Linked DNA regions of Homo sapiens: region 2 is linked to region 1. The links come from fine-mapping of genetic effects on gene expression. Tissue or cell type: whole blood. Region 1 holds a variant in brackets; the other region holds the start of a gene. All regions are shown on one strand. Distances are from middle to middle.

The links. PIP is the estimated chance that this variant, and not a neighbour inherited with it, causes the effect.
Region 2: it holds the start of SLK, and the variant in region 1 is fine-mapped to the expression of SLK in whole blood (TOPMed, PIP above 0.99).

Annotation. Positions count from the first base shown.
Region 1 is chr10:103,921,829-103,929,935 of GRCh38, reverse strand. No RefSeq gene overlaps it. Among named protein-coding and RNA genes, the nearest start is that of STN1, 7.7 kb to the right of the region's middle. RefSeq lists enhancers at 814-1,479, 2,146-2,811. The variant C/G (reference allele first, on the strand shown) is at 4,213.
Region 2 is chr10:103,963,632-103,971,738 of GRCh38, reverse strand. SLK (STE20 like kinase) reads right to left here and starts at 4,599. Exons shown (of 19, transcript NM_014720.4): 1 at 3,844-4,599. The coding sequence starts at 3,993. It overlaps LOC102724351 (a long non-coding RNA gene), which reads left to right and starts at 4,694. Exons shown (of 5, transcript XR_007062282.1): 1 at 4,694-5,958. RefSeq lists enhancers at 1-226, 227-728 and silencers at 4,078-4,177, 4,188-4,237, 4,278-4,737.

The DNA of each region.
Region 1 (8,107 bases):
CTGTGGAGAACATAGAAAAAAATGATGTTCTTAAGTAGCTTATGCTTAAGTTGGGGAACATGGTACACATTCCTGAAATAACTATTGAAGAAATAGGTGCTAAAGTATGTGATGCTGACTGTAAGTTGCACAGTTGTTTGGGGAAGGGAGCATCAGCCAATGTTGACTGGGGCGGTCTTGGCTGAGGGGAGGCGGGAGTGGAGATTGTGTTAGGCCTGATAAAGTCTGTGTAGATAAAGAGATGATTAAACAGGCTTTCTAGGTGGTAGGTGAGGTAACCAGCATAACCAGGCTGTATTCACTCTGGCTCTATAAAAAAACTCTCTTTCCATTTGAAAGCACTCACCACACCCCGACGACCCTCCACCCCACCCTCGTGCTTCACACTTTAATCATCTGGGCCCAGAGCAGCTGTCACCCATCAGGCTAATATACATCAAGCACTACTGCAAATTACATCATCAGAACCGATTAGCCCTTGAACATGTCAGCATAATAGCACTTCTATCTTCTCTGGGTGACTCGTTAATTAATCTCTGGAATATGCTGTCTTTGACATCATTGGGGAGTTAAATTTTTCCTAGATTGAAAGTAGCCCTGGGGAAAATTATAAGTTGATAAGAGAAACAAAATTCTATTCAGCCGCCCAGCTTTATGCTAATGCTCATGAAATGTCATGGCTACTTGAACCTATAGGCATGTGAAAGGAAAATAAATCTCAGTACCCCCAAATCACTAAACCAAAGGGAAAAGTCAAGCTGGGAACTGCATAGGGCAAACCTGCCTCCCATTCTACTCCTCAATAAGATAGCTACAAAGATAAAAAAGCTATATACCTCCCTTACAATCTGCCCACAAGAAAATTCCCTGCGGACAAAAGGACAGACAGAACTCAAAGCCATTCCTCTGTTCACGTAAGACAAATGCATATCTGATTGCTACCTTCGGCCTATTGTTTCACTAAGCCAGACAAAGGCCTAAGTGACTGTTCCTGTAAATTGCCGTATTCAGTGAAAGGCTCATCAGAAACTCAAAAGAATGCAACCGTTTGTCCTTTATCTACCTGTGACCTGGAAGCCCCCACCACACTTCAAGTTGTCTTGCCTTTCTGGACCAAACCAATGTACGTCTTATGTATATTGATTGATGTCCCGTGTCTTCCTAAAATGTAAAATACCAAGCTGTGCCCCAATCACCCTGGGCACATGTCTTCAGGACTCCTGGGGCCATGTCACGAGTGCATTCTTAACCTTGGCAGAATAAACTTCCTAAATTGAGTCTTGTCTCAGATATTCTTTGGTTTACAGGCACATGTTGAAAAATAAAGCAAAGTACAAAATAATGCTCTGTGTTTTCTCTGGAATCACATTAACATTTAAAATGATCAGTTTTTTTTTTTTTTTGAGACGGAGTCTCACTATGTTGCCATACTGGAGTGCAGTGGTGCGATCTCGGCTCACTGCAACCTCCGCCTCCTGGGTTCAAGGGATTCTCCCGCCTCAGTCTCCCGAGTAGCTGGGATTACAGGCACGCGCCTCCACTCCCAGCTAATTTTTGTACTTTTAGTAGAGACAGGGTTTCACCATGTTGGCCAGGATGGTCTCGATCTCCTGACCTCGTGAAAAATGATCAGTTTTTCCATACGAGTGACAAGAAGGCAAAATGTGGGGTCTTACACATTCACACACTCACTTTTTAATTCCTCTCAACTTTAAATGTAACTGTAAACACTAAGAAGAATGCAAACTTGAAAAAAATACTTTATTGAAATATAATATAGCTACAGATCAAGAAACACAAAATAACCAGTAGCCCCACAAGCCCTCTTCATGCTCCTTTGAAGTCAACACCCTTCATCAAAGGGTAATTGATTCTTTACCTCTAATAGCATAGAACAGCTTTGACTGGTTTTGTACTTTATATAAATAGAGTCATATGATATGTACTGTCTTCTGTGTTTGCCTTCTTTCATTCCACATCACATTTGAGAGATTCAAGAGAAATAGCTTTTGTAATTAATATATACTCAACATTTTAAAAATTGGAGCTGGGTGCGGTGTTTCAGGCCTATAATCCCAACATTTGGAGAGGCTGAGACGGGAGGATCACTTGCACCTAGGAGTTCAAGACCAGCCAGAGCAATATAGTGAGGCCCCCAACTCTACCAAAAAGAAAAAAAAATTGGAAAACATCCCTTTAGATTACTTTTAAAATCGTATGTATGGGCTGGGCACGGTGGCTTACATCTGTAATCCCAACACTTTGGGAGGCAGAAGTGGGCGGATCATGAGGTCAAGAGATCGAGACCATCCTGGCCAACATGGTGAAACCCCATCTCTACTAAAAATACAAAAATTAGCTGGGCATGGTGGTGGGCGCCTGTATTCCAGCTACTCAGGAGACTGAGGCAGGAGAATCGCTTGAACCCAGGAGGCAGAGGTTGCAGTGAGTCGAGATCGTGCCACTACACTCCAGCCTGGCGACAGAGCAAGACTCCATCTCAAAAAAAAAAAAAATTGTATGTATGTCTGTACACAATTTATTTGACCAAGACTATAAATTTTTATAAATGTCCTGCCTAAAAAGAAAAGTTATTTTTTCTTTTTGACATTTTCATTAATTCTTTTATCCTGGCCTATTATAATGAATATTAATCCAATTTCTCCAAAACTTAATCTTTACCCAGCTCCAAATGCCTTACAATCTTTGTAGCATTTTTATGAGAAGAGAAATATAAGAATAACACAAAGGTGTTTTCCAGCTGGTGGACCCACTAGCAGCTGGTGACCACTAGGGAGGTCGATGTGTTGCCAGCTCTGTCCCTGTAAGGACATCTGTCATCTGTCAGAGCAATACTCTGGGACTTTCTCAGAAGAGTGCATGTGCATCAAGACTTGGCTGATTGTTTCCACTCACTTAATTATAAGCCTGAGTCCAGTTAAAAAAAAAAAGGGAGTTCACCTATCACATAAACTACCAGTAATCATGGGAACTTCCAAAGTTGGCAAGACACTGTGGATTTATGACTTAAATGACCAGGAATAATGTAGAACGCCAGGCAACAGTCACATAGATTTTTATACCATAAACTCCACAAACCATGCACAGTGTTGCCCTGTGATACAGGCTTTCTAAAAAAATTCTTTGATTTTCTTAATTTTAAAAATTGTGTTAAAATACATGTAACATAAAATTTACCATCTTAACCATTTTAAGCGTACAGTTCAGTGGTATTAAGTATATCCATATTATTGTGCAATTATGACTGCCATCCATCTCCAGATCTCTTCATTTTGCAAAACTGAAACTCTGTACCCATTAATCAGTAACTCCTCATCCCCCCTACCGCAGCCCCTGACAACCATCATTCCACTTTCTTCAAGATGCAGATTTTTAAAGCACAAAACGCAAAGTTCTCTTGTGTACTCAATCCAGTCTCTTGGGACACAAATTTTCCTTAATTAAAGTCATTCTCTGCTCTCCAGAATGAACCCTAGCCCATTACCTCCTGCCCTCTTCATCTTTGCAAGGGTCATAATCCTTTGGTCAAGTTCCTGCCATTTGGACAGGAAGGATGAGCTATTTGACTCACATGAAAGGACCCAAGTAGCCCTCTTGATGCAGTGGGCAGCACTGTCAGTCTCATAAGTGTAAGGACCTAGAGGGTATCTCACCCTCAGCCATCTCTCCCTTTTATATCTGCTTCTGCTTATTCCAAGAATGAGAAGAAGCAGAAATGCGAATTGCACCCTGGTTCACCTGGGGCCTTCTGCTGACACAGGAATCTCCTTCAAAGTCCATGAGGCGGGATGGGCTGTAACTGTTATCTACAACTAGGCAATTTCTGACTTTGTTCTACAATTCAGTCCTTCACTCCTTAAATTCTTGAGCCACCTTATTCCCCCTGACCAAATGGACTTGCTGTTAACTAAAAGCTATATCACTAATAACTTCTAGTTATGGGTGACTGACAAGATCAGCAAATCATCTTGCCAAAATGCAAACATAAAACTGGACAAAACTGACCAAAACAACCATTTCAGCACTCTGAGATCAAAGACACACAACAGTCTGAAAGCAGTTATGCTTGAAAATGACTGAACTCCAGGTAAGAACAGTGAGCATCTGATGCATTTGGCCTGGGGCCTCTCTCATTCCCCTTGCTGACCCCAGCTTGGTTAATGTAGATGTTCTGTCTGGGAAGGGCAAGCT[C/G]TCAGCGCAAGCAGCACCTCTACCACAGTCAAAGGGGCTCATTCAATTTGGAGTACCCATTCCTAAAGGGAAAAATGAAGAGCACAAAAGTAATAGTTATACAGGTTATTACAAAATCATCTATGGTAATTTTTCTTCTCATTTCTTTTTTTTTTTTTTTTTTTTTGAGACGGAGTTTCACTCTTGTTGCCCAGGCTGGAGTGCAATGGCACGATCTCGGCTCACCACAACCTCTACCTCCCAGGTTCAAGCGATTCTTCTGCCTCAGGCTCCCTAGTAGCTGGGATTACAGGCATGTGCCACCATGCCCAGCTAATTTTGTATTTTTAGTAAAGGCGGGGTTTCTCCTTGTTGGTCAGGCTGGTCTTGAACTCCTGACCTCAGGTGATCCGCCCGCCTCAGCCTCCCAAAGTGCTGGGATTACAGGCATGAGCCACCACGCCCGGCCTCTCATTTCTTATCTAACTTTTTTCAAAGACATGAGATTGTATAAAGCAATAATTACAACATTGTATTGCTGTGTTTATAACATATAGATGTAATATATATGTAAATAATAGCACAAAGAAGGTGGGAGGGATAGAAGAATATTGAAGCAAAATTTTTATGTTTTTCAGGAATTTAGTATTAATCTGAAGTACATTATGATAAATAAAGACATATATTGTAATTCTTAGACTACAATCTCTGAGAAATAGCTAAAACTTTTTTCAAAATGTGGAGTAATTCAGACGTTACCCTAAAAATATTTAACACAAAAGAAAAGAAAAAAGGAAAGCAATCAAGGATTAACCGATTAATAAAAAAGAAAGTTGACATATAGAAAACAAATAGAAAAATAGCAAATATAAATCTAACCATATCAACAATTACATTAAATGTGAATGGTCTACATACCCCAATCAAAACCCAGAGATTATTAGACTGAATAAAAAGACAAGAGCCAACTATATGATATCTATAAGAGGCTTAGATTCAAAGACACAAATAGGCTGAAAGTAAGAAGATGGAAAAAGATACACCATTCAAAGAGTAACTATTAGAGGACTGAAATGGTTATATTAACAGACAAAACAGACTTTAAAACTAGAAATATTACTAGAGACAAAGAGGAACAATTTCATAACAATAAGAGTCAATACATCAGAAAGACATAACAATTAGAAATATATGTGCCTTTAACAACTAAGCTCAAAATACATAAAGTAAAACTGACACCTTTCTCAGAGATAACTCACATGAAGCAGGGGGAAAAGTTACTGTCCTCTGATTACTCCAACTCAGGGCCCCCACTTTATGCTGCTAAGTTATACAGCATTTATCATGACATATTGTAATTGTCTGTTTACTTGTTTGGCTCACCTGGAGCCTTTTTTCCTTTTGTATGCCCAGGATACAGCACTTTTTTCAGTCTGCTCAGCAGATACAGAACAGTTGACTTTTGTAATCAATTAATTAATAAGTGAATGGTATCCTAGGCAGAAGGGGAGAAGCAAAAGACAGAGTGGCATATTGTAGGAACTATAAGTTGTTCCAAATAGCTTGAGTTGTGTATTCCAATGTAAACTATTGATTGGATTTAAGTCCAGACTTATTTGGGCAAACTTTCTTCAATATTTTGAGGATGTATTCTTCAGAACAGCATTGGAGAGATGATGGTCTGAAGTGTAGGATGGCTATGAGGGACTGATGGGAGATGAGCCTGGAGAGGCCAGGCCAGGAGGAACTTGGTAGGAAATGCTAAGAGATTTGAACATTATTCTGCAGACCACATAGAGCCATTGAAATATTTCAGACAAGGGAGTAACATAGTTTAATTTGCATTTTATAAGGCTCACCTTGACAGTGGCACAGATGATGAATTGGAAGAAAGCCAGGCTAAAGGCAAAGAAACTAGTTGGAAGGTAGTGTCAGTAACCCAGGCAATAAATGACAAAAGCCTGGGCTCAGGTTATGGCAGTGGGAACAGGGAAGAGAGGCTGAGTTACGAAAACGCATTTAGAAAACAGAACTGACAGGTCTTCATGACTAATTACATTGTAGGGTGAAACAGAGGGAGGTGTCCTTGAAACATTCCAGGTTTCTGACTTCGACAAAAGGCAGGTGGTGGTGACATTCATCCTGACATTCATCCTGACTTAGAAAGGAGAAATGGGGAAGAGGTTTACTTTGAGGTATCCAGGAGAGTCTGGTTGGAAATTCACATGACAGACTCAGGAGAGTGTTCTGGGCTGGATGTGAAGAATTGAGAGTCACTAGAAGATTGTTTCCACTGAAGTCATAGGTTTGGATAAGGCCACTCAGAGAAAGTACATAGGGTAAGAAGGGAAATGAGCAGGAGATTGAACCTTGGGGAACATCAACATGTAAAAGAGATAACAGGAGAGGACACTGAGAAGGAAGAAACAGAGGCAGTAGGAGGAAAACCTAAAAGGTGAGAAAACCCATCAGGAAGCCAAGGTGGGACTGAGAGAAAATATGATCAAATCAACATCAAATACTAGTACATCAAGAAAAAAAAGATACAGAATGATAAGGAAAGAAAAGTATTCATTGAATTTGAATCTGCTAAGGTTATTGTGAGTCTTAGGAGAGCAATGTCAGTCGAGTGGTGGGCTGTGGTGGGGTGGGTTGAAGACCAAGATAAGCCAAATGATGGTGGGTTGAATTAGAGACCTACCACAGAGAAGTACAGATAGGAAGCATTTAGGACTCTTCCAAGGAGCTTTGCTTTGAAAGGAGATGAGAGTGAGCTGGAGGGCAGTAGTTAAAGGGGAGAAGGGGGTCTTCAGAGATGCTGCTTTTGGAAAGTTTGGATGATGTTAAAGAGAGCAGGAGAGCGTGCTTATGGGCCAAGGGGAAGCCAGAGAGAGAGGGAGGATGACATCATAAGGGATTGAGCCAGGTTGCTAAGGAGGCAGGAGGACAAGTGATACAGATGAGGCCCACTGCATTAGGCCCAGAAATGTTTTCTTATTCTAGTTTCTTCACCACCAATTGATGAATATCCGTAAGACACAATTTTTAGGATAGATTCAGTAAATTGGATTGAGAACACTTCTTATACATTTTTGTACCCCCCACCGTAGTATGTTAGATGTGGCAGGTATACCTACAATTCTTTTTTTTTTTTTTTGAGAGAGAGAGAGTCTTGCTCTGTTGTCCAGGCTAGGGTGCAGTGGCATGACTACAGCTCACTGCAAGTTCGGATTCCTGGGCTCAAGCGATCCTCCCACCTCAGCCTCCTGAGTAGCTGGGACTACAGGTGTACACCACCATGCCCTGCTGATATTTTTCTTTTTTGTGGAGATGGGGTTTCACTATGTTGCCCAGGCTGGTCTTGAACTCTTGGGCTCAAGCAATCCTCCCTCCTTGGCCTCTCAAAATATTGAGGTTATAGGGGTAAGCCACCACACCCAGCCTAACTACAATTTTTAAATTCATTAAATCGTTCCTCTGATGAATAATTAACAACTCCCGTTGTTTACAGGAATAAAGGTAGAAGCTAGCTCAAGACCTTCAGAATCTAACTAAAATCTTGGTCTCCAGGTGGCTTCCACTGCAGCCTCCCTCTCCAGCCAGGCTGCTGTGTTGGCTTACCCAGGAACATGACTCGCCCATCCTGCTGCCTATGCCGTGCTCCCACTCCATCACAGCATCACAGTACCCTTTTCACATAGAGTGAGACTAAGACTAAAATCCACACCAACCATGGCCTACAAGGTCCCTCGGATCTGCCTCCTGCCTATCTCTCCATTGCATATGCAACCGCTCTCCCCACACTCTCTTCTGTTCCTTGAACAGGGAAGTATTTTGCTGCCTCCACACGGTGGCCCTTGCTTTGACTGCTGCCTGAAATGCTCTTTGCTTAGCTCTGTGTGGCTGGCTTTTTAAC
Region 2 (8,107 bases), 42 kb before region 1:
GCACACAGCCATCAGTTGTCATATAAAAACTACTTTCATCCAGCACACAGCCAAGAGTTTAGTTTCAACTGGTTTAATAGATAAAATAGCTTTCTAGAAATGCAATTCAATTCATAATCTTATGTCATTCTTTTTTTTCTGTTAAAAACAAGAGAAATCCAGCAGGGGGTGAGGGGCAGTGGCTCATGCCTCTAATCCCAACACTTTGGGAGGCCAAGGCAGGCGGATCACCTGAGGTCAGGAAAGACCACCCTGGCAAACATGGTGAAACCCCGTCTCTACTAAAAATACAAAAAATTAGCCCGGCACGGTGGTGCGTGCCTGTAATCCCAACTACTCCGGAGGCTGAGGCAGGAGAATTGCTTGAACCTGGGAGGCGGAGGTTGCAGTGAGCCGAGATTGCGCCACAGCACTGCAGCCTGGGCGACAGAGAGGGACTCCATCTCAAAACAAAACAAAACACAAACAAAACAACAACAACAAAAAAAGAGAAACCCAAAGATAAAATATTGTGAAGGATATTACATATCTTCATTTATATGTCAAATAATACTATTTTTAAAAGAGAAAATAAATTTAAAGTAGTGAAGCTTTTTCAGGCAAGGAAGTAACTGTTAAATGTGTACAGTGCTGGACTGAGTGGAAGGAATACAACAAGTACACGATGGAAGAATGACTCAGACTAAATACACAACATGATTACCTATAGGTTACACATCCCAAATCTGAAAATCTAATCTGAAATGCTCCAAAATCTGAAACTTTCTGAGTGCTAACATGACATGATGTTCAAAGGAAATGATCACTAGAGCATTTTCAATTTCAGATGTTCAATAACTAAGTATAATGCAAATATTCCAAAATCCAAAAAATTCCAAAATCCAAAACACTTCTGGTCCCAAGCATTTGGGAAATGGGATACTCAACCTCATCTCTATTTACAATATAATCTTTGTAACAGTTACTAATTTCTGTAAGCAAATGATAGTTAGAATCAAGTTTATAAACAGTTTTCTACTACATACTACTACGTACTATGTTAAGGTTCCATAGCTTTTTCTTCCAAATATAAGGAAGTTTATAAATCCTCAATTTCTATGGAATCTTGAAAAACAAAAACTTTTAGAAAAAAGAGGCCATAAGAAGACAGATAAGTTTTAATTTCAAATTTTATTTTTTAAAAAACTCATACCCTACTCCTTAGAAGCAGAGAGTAGTGAAATGAAAAAAGAAAAAATAGTGCCAGCCCGTGCTCTTCAAATATCATACTAAAATACAGTCATCAAGATCACAGAAATTCTCCTTGACACAATTTTATAGTGCTCAAATAACTACATGAAATAAGACTCTTGTTCTTCAGAAATTTTTCAATTAATGTCTCAGTACAGGAAGATAGATCACATTTTGCAGAAAGTGTCATGAAAGAATAACACAGGGCTTTAGTATCTCCACACAGTCTGCCCATGCCATTAGAAACCAACAAAATGGTTTATTATCTTCTTGGTTCCTTTCCCTATCTCATCCCAAAGTTTGCATCTATGAGCTCTAAATGTAATAACAGTAATTTCTACCATTTACTGAGCCCTTTCCATGTGCCTTATATTATCTTTTTCAATCCTCACACTGAGGATGTCTTATGGATGAGCAAAGTTAGGCACAGGACAAATAAGAAACTTGCTCAAGGTCATATGCTGCTATTGAGTGAGAGAGCTAAGTTATATTCCAACTCCAGAGCCAGTGCTCTTACTACTAAGCTGTTTATATTCGATAAAACTTATTTACACCATGAAAACTGCCCATAATCACCTACCACCTTCTAACTACAAGATTCTAGGTGCCTTGAGCATTTATTTTTGCCTTTCCAGGCTAATTACATACTCACAGAACTTTAATGGGTGAAAGAATCTAAACTCCTAAGAAAGTTAATATTATGGCTAAGAAAACGGAGGTCCAGAGAAGTTAAGTGTTTTGTCCAGGATTACAACGCTGGTTTGTGACAGCCAGCACTAAAACACAACTCTTGATTCCCAGGAGTGATCTTCCCACTACAATGAAGCCTTGCATCTTATGAAGCTCTTGCTGAAGCCCATACTCTACCCTCCACACAAATAACAAAGCTTATTTTGCCAACTTCCACAGCCTATGATAGCTTCCACGACAGCATTCATATGCAGACAAAACACATTCTTTCATTTCAACAAATAAACAGACACATCACTATACGCTAAGGCAGTGAATGAACCCAAATATGTATCATAATTTTGGCCCTTAATTTTATTATAGAAACATAAACATATTAATTGTAATAAGTGACAAGTGCTATAATAGCCATGTGAACAACGTGTTCTGAAAGCACACAGAGAGGAGTAGATATTTTAGCCTGGATAAAGAATGAGGACTGGGGTTTTGACAAGATGCATTTGAGGCAGGGCAGAGGCAGAAGTGTAATGGTGCTTAGAAAGTAGTAGGCAGCCGGGGACGGTGGCTCACGCCTGTAATCCTAGCACTTTGGGAGGCCGAGGCGGGCGGATCACCTGAGGTCGGGAGTTCAAGACCAGCCTGACCAACATGGAGAAACCCTGTCTCTACTAAAAATACAAAATTAGCCGGGCATGGTGGCGTATGCCTGTAAACCCAGCTACTACGGGAGGCTGAGGCAGGAGAATCGCTTGAACCCGGGAGGGGGAGGTTGCAGTGAGCCGAGATCGCGCTATTGCACTCCAGCCTGGGCAAAAGGGGCGAAACTCCGTCTCAAAAAAAAAAGAAAGTAGTAGGCAAAATGCTCTCATTTCTACCAGTGACTGTTAAAATAAAAAACAATACTAAATATGGGCTCAGAAGACCTGAGTTCAAGTCTAGGCTGAGACTCATGTGACTGTGAACAATTTCAATATCTTCATCTGTGAAATGTGGATACTAATACTGACCTGCCTACCTCACAAGATTTTTGTGGGGGCCAAATTATTTGAAAGTACTTAAAAACTTCAAAGTCCTGTATAAACATAAGTTATTTTCTTACGTTTTCACTTCTAGGCAACCCTGTGGGTCCTTCCCCTAAACGCTGTCTCATAAAAAATTCGCCCTTCAGGATGAAAATACTCCAATGACATCATTCATATGTTCCTTAGGAGATATTAAATAGTTAACATTAATGCCTTCAGGTTGAAACGCCAAGCCTCTTTCTATTGAAATAAATACATGCGTGTGTGTTTTTAACTGCTTAAGCGCTGATACTGACTTCTAGTCAATGCTTACCATAAATATATTTAAAACTAGTACCACATGAAGGTTTTTTGGAAATTTTGTCAGAAATTCCATTCTATTTTATAGTATGCTGTCAAGCAACTAACTCAAGAAGAGACTGCAAGTAGCAATCACTTTGATCCCAACTAGTTCTGTATTAGCTCTAGATACAACCAAATATATATACTGGACCCTAAAAACAGAACTGTTGGAGTACAAGCATGCACGCGAATGCAGTCAGTAGACAAATCCACTGCAAAGTGCAATGAGTTTCTCATTCTAAAATACTTGAAGGGCACAACCAGACCCCTCCTATAAATTAAAGAACACTCTCATTTCCTTTGAAGTTTGAAAGAGTAGACTTTATAACCCTGTCTCCTTTTCCAATCGCTCTTTAAACTCCATCCAGGCCCCATTTTGTTCCACCGTAAACCCGACTTCTTAGCTACTCCTTGGATGATCAGCCAAGTAAAGTTGCATCGAACCGTAACAGTCAAAAGAAGGACAGGATAAGGACCAGGGGAGCAGAAGTCCTCCCGCCACTCCAGGCCAGTGGCTGTTTTACCTTCGCAGTACAACTTCCCGTTTTCCCCCTCTTACCTTGTACACTTTCCCAAAGGCTCCGTCGCCCAGTTCTCCTATAATCTCCCAAAAGTCTTCGGGGTTCAGGTCCCTCTTCACGTGTTCGTACTGCTTCTTCTTCTTCTCGCTCCCCAACTTGAAGATCTTACGGAAATTGAAGAAGGACATTTTTCCTCCCAACACAGAGTTCCTTGCACTTAAGGACTAAAAACAATAAAAGGCAAAGTTTCTCTTCCCTGCTCTCCCGCGCGAGCCCGGCTGGCGGCGGCGGGCGCGGCGTCCCTCGGCCCCCGCAGCTCCGGCCGGGCGGTCCCGGGAGAAGGCGGGGCGGCGACCCGGGCTCCGGCCCGCGGTGGGGGTGCTGCGCGAGCGGCCCCTCCGCCGAGCCCGGCCCGCGAGCCGCGCGGTGGGCGCCTCGCCTCCGGCCCACCCTCCGGGAGCGGCACCTGCCCGCAAGCTCGCTCCCACCCGGCCTGATCCGACGGGTCCGAGCGGTCAGGACTCCCGCGGCGGCGGCTTAGGCCCGTGTCACGGCGAGTCTCCAGGGGCGGCGGCCACTCTGGGAGAGAGAAGCGGCCGGCGGCCTCGGAGGCGGGCAGTCGAGAAGCCGAGCCCTCCCGCCTCGGGCCGCGAGCCTAGGGTCTCCTCCGCCGCCGTCCGCTCCCGCGGCGCAAGGCCCGCGCGTCCCCTCGGGTCTGGGGCGCCGCCGCCGCCGCCTGTCTCCCTCCCCAGCCCACACAGCCTCGGCCTGGAGCGCGCGCCGACGCCGACTCCGTAGCGCGCCCGCGCGCTTTCCCGGCTGCGCGCCCGCCCGGTCACGCGCCCTGCTCACCGCGCGCTCGCGTGGGGGCGTCCCCTCTGGCCCCGCGCACGCGCGCTACGTCCCTCAGACTGGCTGCCCCCGAGGGTTCGCGTGAGCGGAGCACGGGGCTCGGGGTGCGGGGGGCTGGTGTGATGGACGCATTTGTTCTTCGGTCCCTGACGATTGTTTCTCATTTGCCCTCCAAGCCCCAAATCCTGTCAGTCCACGGCCTTGATGGAGCGGCCCCCGTGGGACGACCCTGTTGATTGTGCTAGCGGATGTTGTCTCCATTCTGGATCTGGGAAAAACTGTGGAGTGAAAGCCGGACCTGTTAGGGTTGGGACCTGAAAGCGGACTTTTTCGCTCTCAGACGGGCCCCAGGTACAGTGAGAGGGGAGTTTGTGTGGTGGTTGTGAGCTTGAGCTTTGGAGAGAGAGATCTGTGACCTTGGGCAGGTGACCTCTCCGAGCCTCGGTTTCCTCGCCGTAAAATGAAGATCCTAATAGTCCCTACCAGAAGGTTGTGAATGAGACAATAGATGGAAGCCCTTTGCGCGGCCCCTGCACCCGTAAACGCTCAATCTTAGTTCTTACTCTTGTTGTTTTAAGTGTGCAGGCAAGATAGACACAGATACATAAAAACTGTTTAAGACCACTTCTCTTTTTTTTCTTTCTTTCTTTTTTTTTTTTTTTTTTTTTTTTTGAGACGGAGTCTCGATCTGTCGCCCAGGCTGGAGTGCAGTGGCGCGAACTAGGCTCACCGCAAGCTCCGCCTCCCGGCTTCACGCTATTCTCCTGCCTCAGCCTCCCGAGTAGCTGGGACTACAGGCGCCCGCCACCACGCCCCGCTAATTTTTTTGTATTTTTAGTAGAGACGGGGTTTCACCGTGTTAGCCAGGATGGTCTCGATCTCCTGACCTCGTGATCCGCCCGCCTCGGCCTCCCAAAGTACTGGCGTGAGCCACCGCGCCGGGCCCCCACTTCTCAACTGATGACTGCGACACTCCCTTGAGGGTAAAACTAACTTCTGGCCACCTCCACAACTGTAAACCTGGTGTCACTCTTGGTGACTCCACCTCAGCTAAGGCCCCCACTTCCTGATCTGCCTCCAGCCCCCTTGGGCAGCACTCCCTGGTGGGGCAGTGTGGACGTTGGCTGGAATCCGTCAGGTGGTGACCTACCTTCCCCTCCTCCACCAGACGGGAGCTCTTTCAGGCCAGTGGTTTGTTGTTCATCAAGATATCCAAGTACCCGGCAACATTCCTGGCATATAATAGGAAGGCAGATCTGGTGAATGAATGAATGAATGGCGGTATCTGGAGCAGAGACAATGTATGTATATATTGCTATTTATATAATGTCTGCCCCCCCAGTCATTTTGCCCTTCAGCCCCAAAATGGCATAGCAAAACCCCCCTTCCAGTAAGACGCTTAAGATGATTCAATTCCTTGAGATCCTTCTATTTTTTTAAGTGTTATTGCAATATATTGATATACAATAAACTGTACATATTTAAAGTGTGCATTTGGTTTTTTTGCTAGTACTTGTTTGCTTTTTTTTAAAATTATACTTTAAGTTCTGGGATACACATGCAGAACGTGCAGGTTTGTTACATAGGTATACACGTGCCATGGTGGTTTGCTGCAAGTGTGCACTTTTATATGTTTTGACAAATGTATAGACCTGTGAAAACAATACTATAATTATTTGTAATTATTATCATTTATGGAGAAAATGAAATGCTTAAAAAATAAAATTAAATTAAAAGTACTATAATTCTACTATCCAGACACAACCATTGATAAGAACTTATATTTCAAAACAGGATTTTTTTGGTTGTGCATTAACTTTTTTCAACATGGTTGAGGTTGTATTACATAAAAAGGTTTGCATCCTGCACTTCGCATATTTCAATACAATTAATAATTGTTCTCTTCCATTATGAGATATTTAGATTATAATTCCTCTGTTTTTAATAAAATACGGATAAATATCTTTGTACACAAATCTTTTTCCACATATTTGATTATTTCCTTAGGATAAATTGCCAAAAGTAGATTTCGGTCAATGGGTATATGTCTGTTTCCTTATTTTGTTCTTTTCAAAATAGAAAAGACTTTACTATTTTGTCAATTAAAAGATAGTGTATTACTGGCTGGGTGGGGTGGCTCACACCTATAATCCCAGGCTGAGGTGGGAGGATTTCTTGAGCCCAGGAATTTGAGACCAGACTGGGCAACATGGCGAGATCACATCTACCAAAAATTAAAAACAGAAAAATTAGCTGGGCATGGTGGCACTCACCTGTGGTCTCAGCTACTGGGGAGGCTGAGGCAGGAGGATCACTTGGGCCCAAGAGGATGAGGCTGCAGTGAGCCATGTTTGTGCCACTGCACGTCAGCCTGGGCAACAGAGCTAGAACTTGTCTCGAAGAAAAAATAAAAATGAAAGATAGTATATTTTTGTTGTAAATAATTCAAATAATACAGAAATTATAAACTAGGAAGCTGTCTATAGTTCTGTCCTCCTTCCTTCCCCCCTACTCATAGTTACCCTCGACCTAACCACTGTTAAAAGTTAAGCCTGTGATGATGGATATGTTTATGTAATAGGCAGTGGTGATGTACAGTTATCACCCAGCTCATCTAGTTATATACATTAAGTATGAGCAGCTTATTGTATGTCAATCATAATTCAATAAGTGGTTTTTAAAAAGTCACTAGCAAAGCAAAGATAAAGTTCTGACACCATTAAGAAATAGAAATAGGCTGGGCACGGGGGCTCACACCTGTAATCCCAGCAATTTGAGAGGCTGAGGTGGGTGGATCACCTCAGGTCAGGAGTTTGAGATGAGCATGGCCAACATGGCAATACCCCGTCTCTAACAAAAATACAAAAATTAGCCGGGTGTGGTGTCATGCATCTGTAATCCCAGCTACTCGGGAGGCTGAGGCAGGAGAATCGCTTGAACCTGGGAGGCGGAGGTTGCAGTGACCTGAGATCGTGCCACTGCACTTCACCTGGGCGACAGAGCTAGACCCTGTCTCAAAAAAAAAAAAAAAGAAATAGAAATATTATCATAAATTTTTTCATATATTATGAAAAAAAGAAATGGAAATGAGCCTCTTGTAAAAGCTTTTCCTTTTAATAACATAATACATGGCCAAATAAAAAAAGTTAAGCCCATGAGCATGAGAGAATTTTGGGGGACAATAAAAAAGGGTTTTATAACTAGATTATGGTGATGATTTTACACTTAGAATGGGTGAATTATATGCTTTGTAAATTATACCTCAATAAAGCTACTTTGAAAAAGTTAGGCCTATATATGTTTTTTTCTGTGTGTATGTATGTGTATGTGTGTATATATATATATATATAAATATATATATATATATATTTTTTAAGATGAAGTTTCCGTCTGTCGCCAAGGCTGGAGTGCAGTGGTGTGATCTCGGCTCACTGCAACCTCCACCACCTG